2 linked regions of the Homo sapiens genome follow. Changing the gene in region 1 together with any one later gene gives a genetic interaction. Each region holds a gene or a part of one and is shown in the gene's direction. Other genes may lie near its edges. The genes, in order: COPZ1 and REV3L.

Region 1 (3,821 bases):
TCCACTAGGCAACAAAGTTCTTTAGTTTGAGAGAGGAGTTACTCATGCCTTGTTTATTCCAGAGTGTTATATATACAGGATGGACATCTCTAAGGAGTGTTTATCAGAGGAGGGATAAAGTTGGTAGTAATATCACCCAAAGTGGCCACATCAGAAAATCCACTTATATGTGGAGGTCTAATTATAAGTAGTCCCTTAGATGCATACTGCGTCAAGGTATTTTAACTTTATTCTCAAACTTCCTTTATTCTCTGAATTATTCACCAAATATTGAGAGTTTAGTATGTGTCAGGCATTGTTCTGGACAAATGGGACAAACCAGCGAACAAAACAAAAATTGCAGTCCTCAAGAATTCAAGTAGGGAAAGCTTATGTTCCTCATCACCTTGTTGTCAAAAGACTGGGTTCCTTTTACTTCCATTCTGAACTGCCCTCCTCTGCCCCCGCAAACAGGGTTGATTCTTTGCATGGAACCATAAACCTCCTGAAGCCTCATGAGGCAATTTATGTTTGTAGAGGCTGCAGTTTCTGGGTTCTTGGCAATGATTTTTTCCTCCTCACTCTTGGATATCTGTCAAACACATACTTTTGTGTTTGGCTCCTGTGAGGACTGTGGGTTTCTTAAATAAGGCCAGGAAAGAGGTAGCAAAGCAACAGCCTTGTCTCAGCACAAGGGATATCAATGGTAAGTAATGTTGATTAGAAAGTCAAGGAATGTAGGTCGGGCGCAGTGGCTCACACTTGCACTTTGGGAGGCCTAGGTGGGAGGATTGTTTGAGCCTAGGAGTTCAAGACCAGCCTGAACAATACAGTGACACCTTTTCTCTTAAAAAAAAAAAAAAAAAAAAGAAAGTCAAGGAATGTGAGGCTGCAAATACCTTTCATGCACACATCACTATCTCTCCACACTTTTGGTTTTTTCTATTCAATCAATTAGAGATGGGGTTTCACTCTGTCACCCAGCCTGGAGTGCAGTGGCGCAGTCCTAGCTCAGCGTGGTCTTAAACTCCTGGGCTCAAGAGATCCTATCACCTCAGCCTCCTGAGTAGCTAGGACTATAGATGCACGCCACCACACCTGGCTAATTTTTTTTATTTTTGTAGAGATGGGGGGTCTCCCTGTGTTTCCCAGGCTGGTCTTGAACTGGCCTTAAGCAATCCTCCTGCCTCAGCCTCCTGCGATTTTCCTTCTCCTAGTTAGCTGGCTCCCTTGAAGTTGCAGTGGTAGAGGAGAGCAACAGACCACCACAGGTTTTGCAAGTGATATACTTACAGTTGAAGAAGAACCATTAAGACTGAGGCCGTGATTCCTTATTTGATTCTTGGTAGTGGAAAAAAAATTACCCTCTTGCTCACTCACTCTAGGCCCCAGAGTGTTTCTCAGATAGATCATCTTCTCACTGCTTCTTAACTCCCCCAAAATTCAGGTTGGCTTTTGTCCTTGGAAGTTAAGTGGTAGTGGTTAAGGTATAGTGGAAGAATTGGAGAACATAGGAGAGTTTTTGAAGATGGCTGTTTTACTAGGCTGCATTGAGAACTGGTGTGCCTGTGCGTGTGTGTGTGTGTGTGTGTGTGTGTGTGTGTGTGTGTGTAAACGCTCTTTTCCCTCTGCTTAGTGTGTGGGTGGTTTAGGGAAGGCTTGCTTTATGCTTCTGCATTGCTACTGCATTCGGACTGCAGAAACTTCCAAGTATACTAGGACATTCAACCCTATTTTCAAATGGCTTTGTTCAGTGCCTTTTAATTAATCTGGTCACATTCTATAGCCACCTGTACATGGGAGAGCAGGAAGGGAGAGGGTAATTTGGAAAATAACTGTACCATAATATTTGGAAATAACAGCATGACCTCTCTTGATTAAGCCCCCTGTGAGTCAGAGAAACTGTTTCTCTGATGGTACTTTGGAATCCTTTGTTTAAATGCTTTCTCTGTCAATTCAGTTTACTTACCCTGGGTCTTTCTCAATGGGAAATATCAAAATCTGACCAAGTTGAGGTAAGGGACTTACAGAGGTACCTCTGTATCCCCTTGCAGCCCCAGTGGGACTAGGGGAAGGTATCTGGTTTACCAGTGGTGATGGGAGGCTTCAGGACTGAAGGTATGTTCGTATCTCTTCAGGAACCTTCCCTGTATACTGTCAAAGCCATCCTGATTCTGGACAATGATGGAGATCGACTTTTTGCCAAGGTGAGATTCCCTTTCGAATTAGTTTAGGAACAGCACAAAGGTTTATTCTGAGATTTGAATCTTGGGACTGATACCTTATTAACTTATGTTCCTCAGTAGTATAATTTTGAGAATACTTCCATCTTTTTTTTTTGAGATGGAGTTTCGCTCTTATCACCCAGGCTGGAGTGCAATGGCGTGACCTTGGCTCACTGCAGCCTCAGCCTCCCAAGTAGCTGGGATTACAGGCACGCGCTACCACCCCCGGCTAATTTTTTGTATCTTTAGTAGAGACAGGGTTTCAGCAGGTTGGCCAGACTGGTCTCAAACTCCTGACCTCATGATTCGCCCGCCTTGGCCTCCCAAAGTGTTGGGATTACAGGTGTGAGCCACCACACCCGGCCTGAATTCTTCCATCTTATCTTGCCTACTCCAGATAAAACCTGTTTTCTTTTGTCCCTTAGTTGTACTGCTGCCCTGCTTGCTGTCCTCAGACTTTGACCTCCTTTGTTGTCAGCATCAGATCAGGGAAAAGCTTTGAAACTTTGGTTCCTAACAAAGCAGTATGTAGATGCTAAGAGGCAGTCCGCCCATGTCCATCATTCCTGTCCCCTTCCCTCATACCATGTCACCCTGCCTGGGTTTTTCCAGAGAATTGTCTTGCAGTTCCAGGTTTCCATTCCTAGGTTTATAGTCACCATCAAGCTTGTTACCTCCTGACTTTCCCAGAGTGATGTTTCCAACTTTAGATCTGTTGGAAGAAAGAAGAAAGGACACCCTCTCTCCCTCCATATTCTCCCCCTCCTGTAGAAATTTCTTCTGTCCCTGGTGTATTAACTCCGGGCGAGCGTAGCATAAATCAATCAGCAGGTAGAGATTAGTTTAGAATTCACCAGCTGTTCCTCCCTGTAATTGGATGTAACTATGCAGGACACCTTTTGAAACAGTTATCCAGTTACTAAATGCCAGACCTGTCATGGGTCTTCAGCTGACTGCGACGGATTAGCCCCTAAAGAGCTAGCGATTTAGCAGCCTGCATCTCCGCCCCCTTTGCCAGGGAGAGCCTGGGAATGGGCTCAGTGGTATGCTGGATGCTTCTTTCAGCTTGCAGAAAAGAAAGCTAAGATAGATCATAGGGCAGGGTTTGCCTTTCTTTGGAGGAGGTTTTTGTAGCCTTTCCCCATTCCTCAGCTTCATACAGTGAGTGAGGGTCTATGGAAGTGTTCTGTGCTTCTAGTGTTTTTTGTGTTCTCTGGCACTGCTTCCTGACATGGGGTAGCTCCTAGGAAACACTTGATGAGAATGGTTTTAGGAGAGGTCTAGATTGCAGACAGCTGCAGAGCCTCACTGTAGGGCTGGTAGGCTTCTGCCTTCAGACAGTCTTGGAAATGTGAGGTGGGGTTGCTTATGGCAGGGTCTTTTATTTATTTTTCTTGGATTACTCACTGCCCATTCTCTGCCTCTACAATCCTTCCTTTTCCATGTCAGTATTTCTCCCTTGCCCCATGCCTTGAAGGAGAGAAATCCAAGATCCCAGGGCAAAACATAGTCACTAATCATTCTGGCTTCCAGCTCTAGTGACCCAACCCTGTCTTCTTTCCCTCTGACCAGTACTATGACGACACCTACCCCAGTGTCAAGGAGCAAAAGGCCTTT
Region 2 (3,821 bases), on another chromosome or scaffold:
TATTTTCAGATTTTTTACAGATAACATGTGCTGATTTTATAATTTAAAAAAACCATGTACAAAATTAAGGAAAAATTGATTTTCTAGATATGGTTCCAGAAATGTAGTGGGAGACATGAGATTCGTAATGGTCTCCAAAATATGTGTCAACCAAAATGCATGATTGCATGATGATCATATTGAACTTAATTATATAAATTCCATTTAGAAATTGCAAAATGATTCATAAATTAAAGCAAGCCAGTAATTTCTGGTTGTATTATTCTTACTTGTATGTAAAGTGGTTTTAATTTTAAAATGTTTTGAAAAGTAACATGGTTTTGGCACATGACAGCACTAAAACAGAGTAAAGACTAGAATTAACTTAAATATATATGAGAGCTTAATATAGGTTGAGCATCCCTTATCTAAAACTCCATAATCTGAAATCCTTCAAAATCTGAAATGTTTTGAACACCAACATGATGCCACAAGTAGAAAATTCCACACCTGACCTCATGATGGGTCGCAGTCAAAACTTCGTTTCAGGCTGGATGCAGTGGCTCATGTCTGTAATCCCAACACTTTGGGAGGCTAAGGTGGGAGGATTGCTTCAGCCCAGGAGTTCAAGACCAGCCTGGGCAACATGGAAAGACGCTATCTCTACAAAAAAATACAAAAGTTAGCCAGGCAGGGTGGTACACGTTTGTGGTTCCAGCTACTTGGGAGGCTGAGGCAGGAGGATCGCTTGAGCCCAGGAGGTGAAGGCTGCAGTGAGCCATGATTGTATGACTGCATTCCAGCCTGGGTGACAGAGCAAGTCCCTGTCTCAAAAACAATCAAAACAACTTTGTTTCATGTGTAACATTATTTAAAATTATATAAAATTACATTCAGGTTTGGTCCCATCCTCAGGATATCTCATGTATGTGCAAATATTCTAAAATCTGAAACACTTCTGGTCCCAAGCATTTCAGATAAGGGGTATTCAACTTGTATATGAAAATGGATCCCACCTTCATTTATGAGTAGGGAAAAGAAGAATTGTTTAATAAACAGTGTTGGGATAGCCAGTTAGTCATCTGGAAAAATAATGTTGGCTTCCAGAGGAGTTAAAGATTTAAATATGAAACAAAGAAACAAAAAAGGTAGGGTAATTATTTTTTACGTAATCCAGGATTGGTGAAGTCCTTTAATAGCATACTGGGTTGCTGGATTTTAGGACATAAAAATAAAATTCTGTACAGGGGAAAAAATCAAACAAAGTTAAAAGAGAAACAGACTAGTAAAACTTATTTGTATACTTCACAAAGGGCTAAGTTCCTCTTAATACAAAGAACTAGAAAATAATCCAGTAGAAAAATTAGCAAAGAGAATTCATATGAAAAAATGTACAACTTTATTTATAATATAATAAAGATGTAAATTCAAGCTACAACATACTCTTTGTCACCTATCAAATGAGCAAAGGTTATGTATAGTATAACTCGGGAAAGGTGAGAAGAGAAAATGGTCAGCCTTATACATTGCTGGTGGGATTATAAAGTATTCATACTCTATAGAAAGCAGTTTGAAAATGGTTTTCAAAAATTAAAACACAGATTTATTTCGTTCTAGTAATTCCATTATAGGATTTTATTCTCTAGAAGATTTTGCATATATGTCAAATAAATATCTAAGAATATTTGTGGCAGCATTATTTGTTACTGCAAAAGATTGGAAACATGCTAAACATATCAGTAGGGAAGTAGTTAGGTGAATTATGGTGTATATATTCAACAGAATACTAGTCAGCCTTTAAAAATAATGAGAGAATACTATGTGTACTGCTGTGGTGCTATGTCAAAGATATGAGGAAAAAAAGCAAGAGGCATGACTGCATGTGCAGTTTGCTGCCATTCGTGTGGTTAAAATATATATTTTTATATGCTATATATGCCTATGTATTAGAATAAAATTCTTTATTATAATAAAATCCATATGTGTGTGTGTGTGTGTGTGTGTGTGTGTGTGTGTATATATAGGCAGCTATAGAATGTAATGTGCATGGGAGGATACGGGAGAGTCTGATGACAGTAATTGCTCCAGTGTGTAGAAGTGGTTGCCTAGAGGACAAAGATGGACTAACTTTTAAAGTATACTGTTTGGTAATTTTTCAGTATTTTAAAATCATGTGCATGTAATACTATTCAAAGTTAATATTTTTAAGTTATGTTTTGCTTACAGGAATTGGTAAGAAGGAAAAAATAAGAGACCATAATAGTTGTTACAAACAAATGATTACTGCAATACTGTTTTTAACTTTAGTTATTGTTAGAGATCTTCTAATTCAAAGTTTTCAGTTGATGTTACATGGCTCACAGAAGGGTAGTCCTAGTAGAATGGGGGCTGAAGGAAGGCGTTGGGGTTCCTGTGAACAAATAGCATGGTGAGTGACAACCAACAGTTAAAAGCAGCATACTGCTCCTTTTGATATTTTAAGTGCATTAAATGAGGTGTGCCTTACTACTTGGAATCTACTTCAGCAGCCAGCCACAGTGTACAGCTGCCTTTTGTGGGAAAGGGATCATGGAATTGTTACTGGAGTTTGTATTCACGGTGCCGAAGGAACATGCCACCTACCACAAGGTGCAACCCACTTACAATGAGAGGACAAGGAAGCAGGGAGGGTGTCTCTGGTGGCCCAGCTCCAGGCCTGACTATCTGTATTCACCTGTATTGGATGCTGCTCACCACGTGCGTTTGATATGCTCTGCAAGGTGACTGCCTAATAGTGCATGTATGTTTGTCAGAAATAAAGCATGATTTTAATTTTGAAATATTCTTGATGTGAAAATGTTTGGTTTTGAAATTCATATTAAAATTTTCAGCATTACATGTGTCAAAAAATATCTACCATAACACTTTACATTTTTTCTTCTGTAATTAGAAAATATGATAATTTTTTTTCACCAGGCACTGTGTAGATGCCTCCAAATGCCCTCCTGTTGTCCAGTGTGCTAAATTTTTTTTTGCTGACAAGTTTTGTTTGCAATGTTAAAAGGGTTGAGAAGCATCATTCTAGTCAAATGTACTCATTTTGTATGAAGAAAACTGAAATCTACATAGCAGGCTCAGGGATTTGTCCAGTGTCCTACAGTTGGTTGGTGTGAGGCTGGATTTGAAAATTGGGGATCTTGGATCTTGACTCTTCAGCTCTCATCACCTCACACTGACCCCCTCTCCCCCCGAAACATGAGGGAATATTGGAGGAAGGCATTGATGATAATTGAAAGACAAAAATACAGAACCTCAGAGGAATTATTAAAAGAACTGCACATATGTAGTTCAGAAATCTTTGAGACCCTACTGTATCTAATAGTGCTTAGAATCTTCTTATATAATAATATTATTAATATTCTATAATCTAGAATAGATTATAGTAGGATTCGTTTTATGATGACTTGGGCTGTATCTTTAAGAAAACAAAAGATTATAGCAAAAGGAGTTTAGGGCAAACATAAATAAAAATTGATACTAAAATCGTATGTATGCTATTTCCAAAAAAGGGAGGAGGGAATATATGAGACCTTTCAAGTTCCTCTGGTACTATAATTACATTTTCTCTCATCTTGCTTTTGATTGGATTAGAATTCACGCAATTAAAGATAATCTAGGGCCAGGCACCTATAATCCCAGCACTTTGGGAAGCAGAGGCAGGAAGATTGCCTGAGCCCAGGATTTTGAGACCAGTCTGGGCAACATGGCAAGACCCCGTCTCTTTAAAAAAAAAAAAAAATCTAAGTGAAAAATGATTCAAGTCTAAATAGGTTGGGTTAAAGTAGGTTTTAGAGGATGTTGTC

The links.
Region 2: changes in COPZ1 (region 1) and REV3L impair growth when combined (synthetic growth defect), as found in Homo sapiens cells (one large-scale study listed by BioGRID).

Annotation. Positions count from the first base shown.
Region 1 is NC_000012.12:54,338,430-54,342,250, forward strand, and holds part of COPZ1 (coatomer subunit zeta-1), read left to right. Parts: intron 1-2,033; exon of another isoform or gene 2,034-2,075; coding exon of another isoform or gene 2,076-2,117; coding exon 2,118-2,186; intron 2,187-3,776; coding exon 3,777-3,821. UniProt on the Homo sapiens protein: The coatomer is a cytosolic protein complex that binds to dilysine motifs and reversibly associates with Golgi non-clathrin-coated vesicles, which further mediate biosynthetic protein transport from the ER, via the Golgi up to the trans Golgi network.
Region 2 is NC_000006.12:111,473,163-111,476,983, reverse strand, and holds part of REV3L (DNA polymerase zeta catalytic subunit), read left to right. Parts: exon of another isoform or gene 1-2,738; intron 2,739-3,821. UniProt on the Homo sapiens protein: Catalytic subunit of the DNA polymerase zeta complex, an error-prone polymerase specialized in translesion DNA synthesis (TLS). Lacks an intrinsic 3'-5' exonuclease activity and thus has no proofreading function.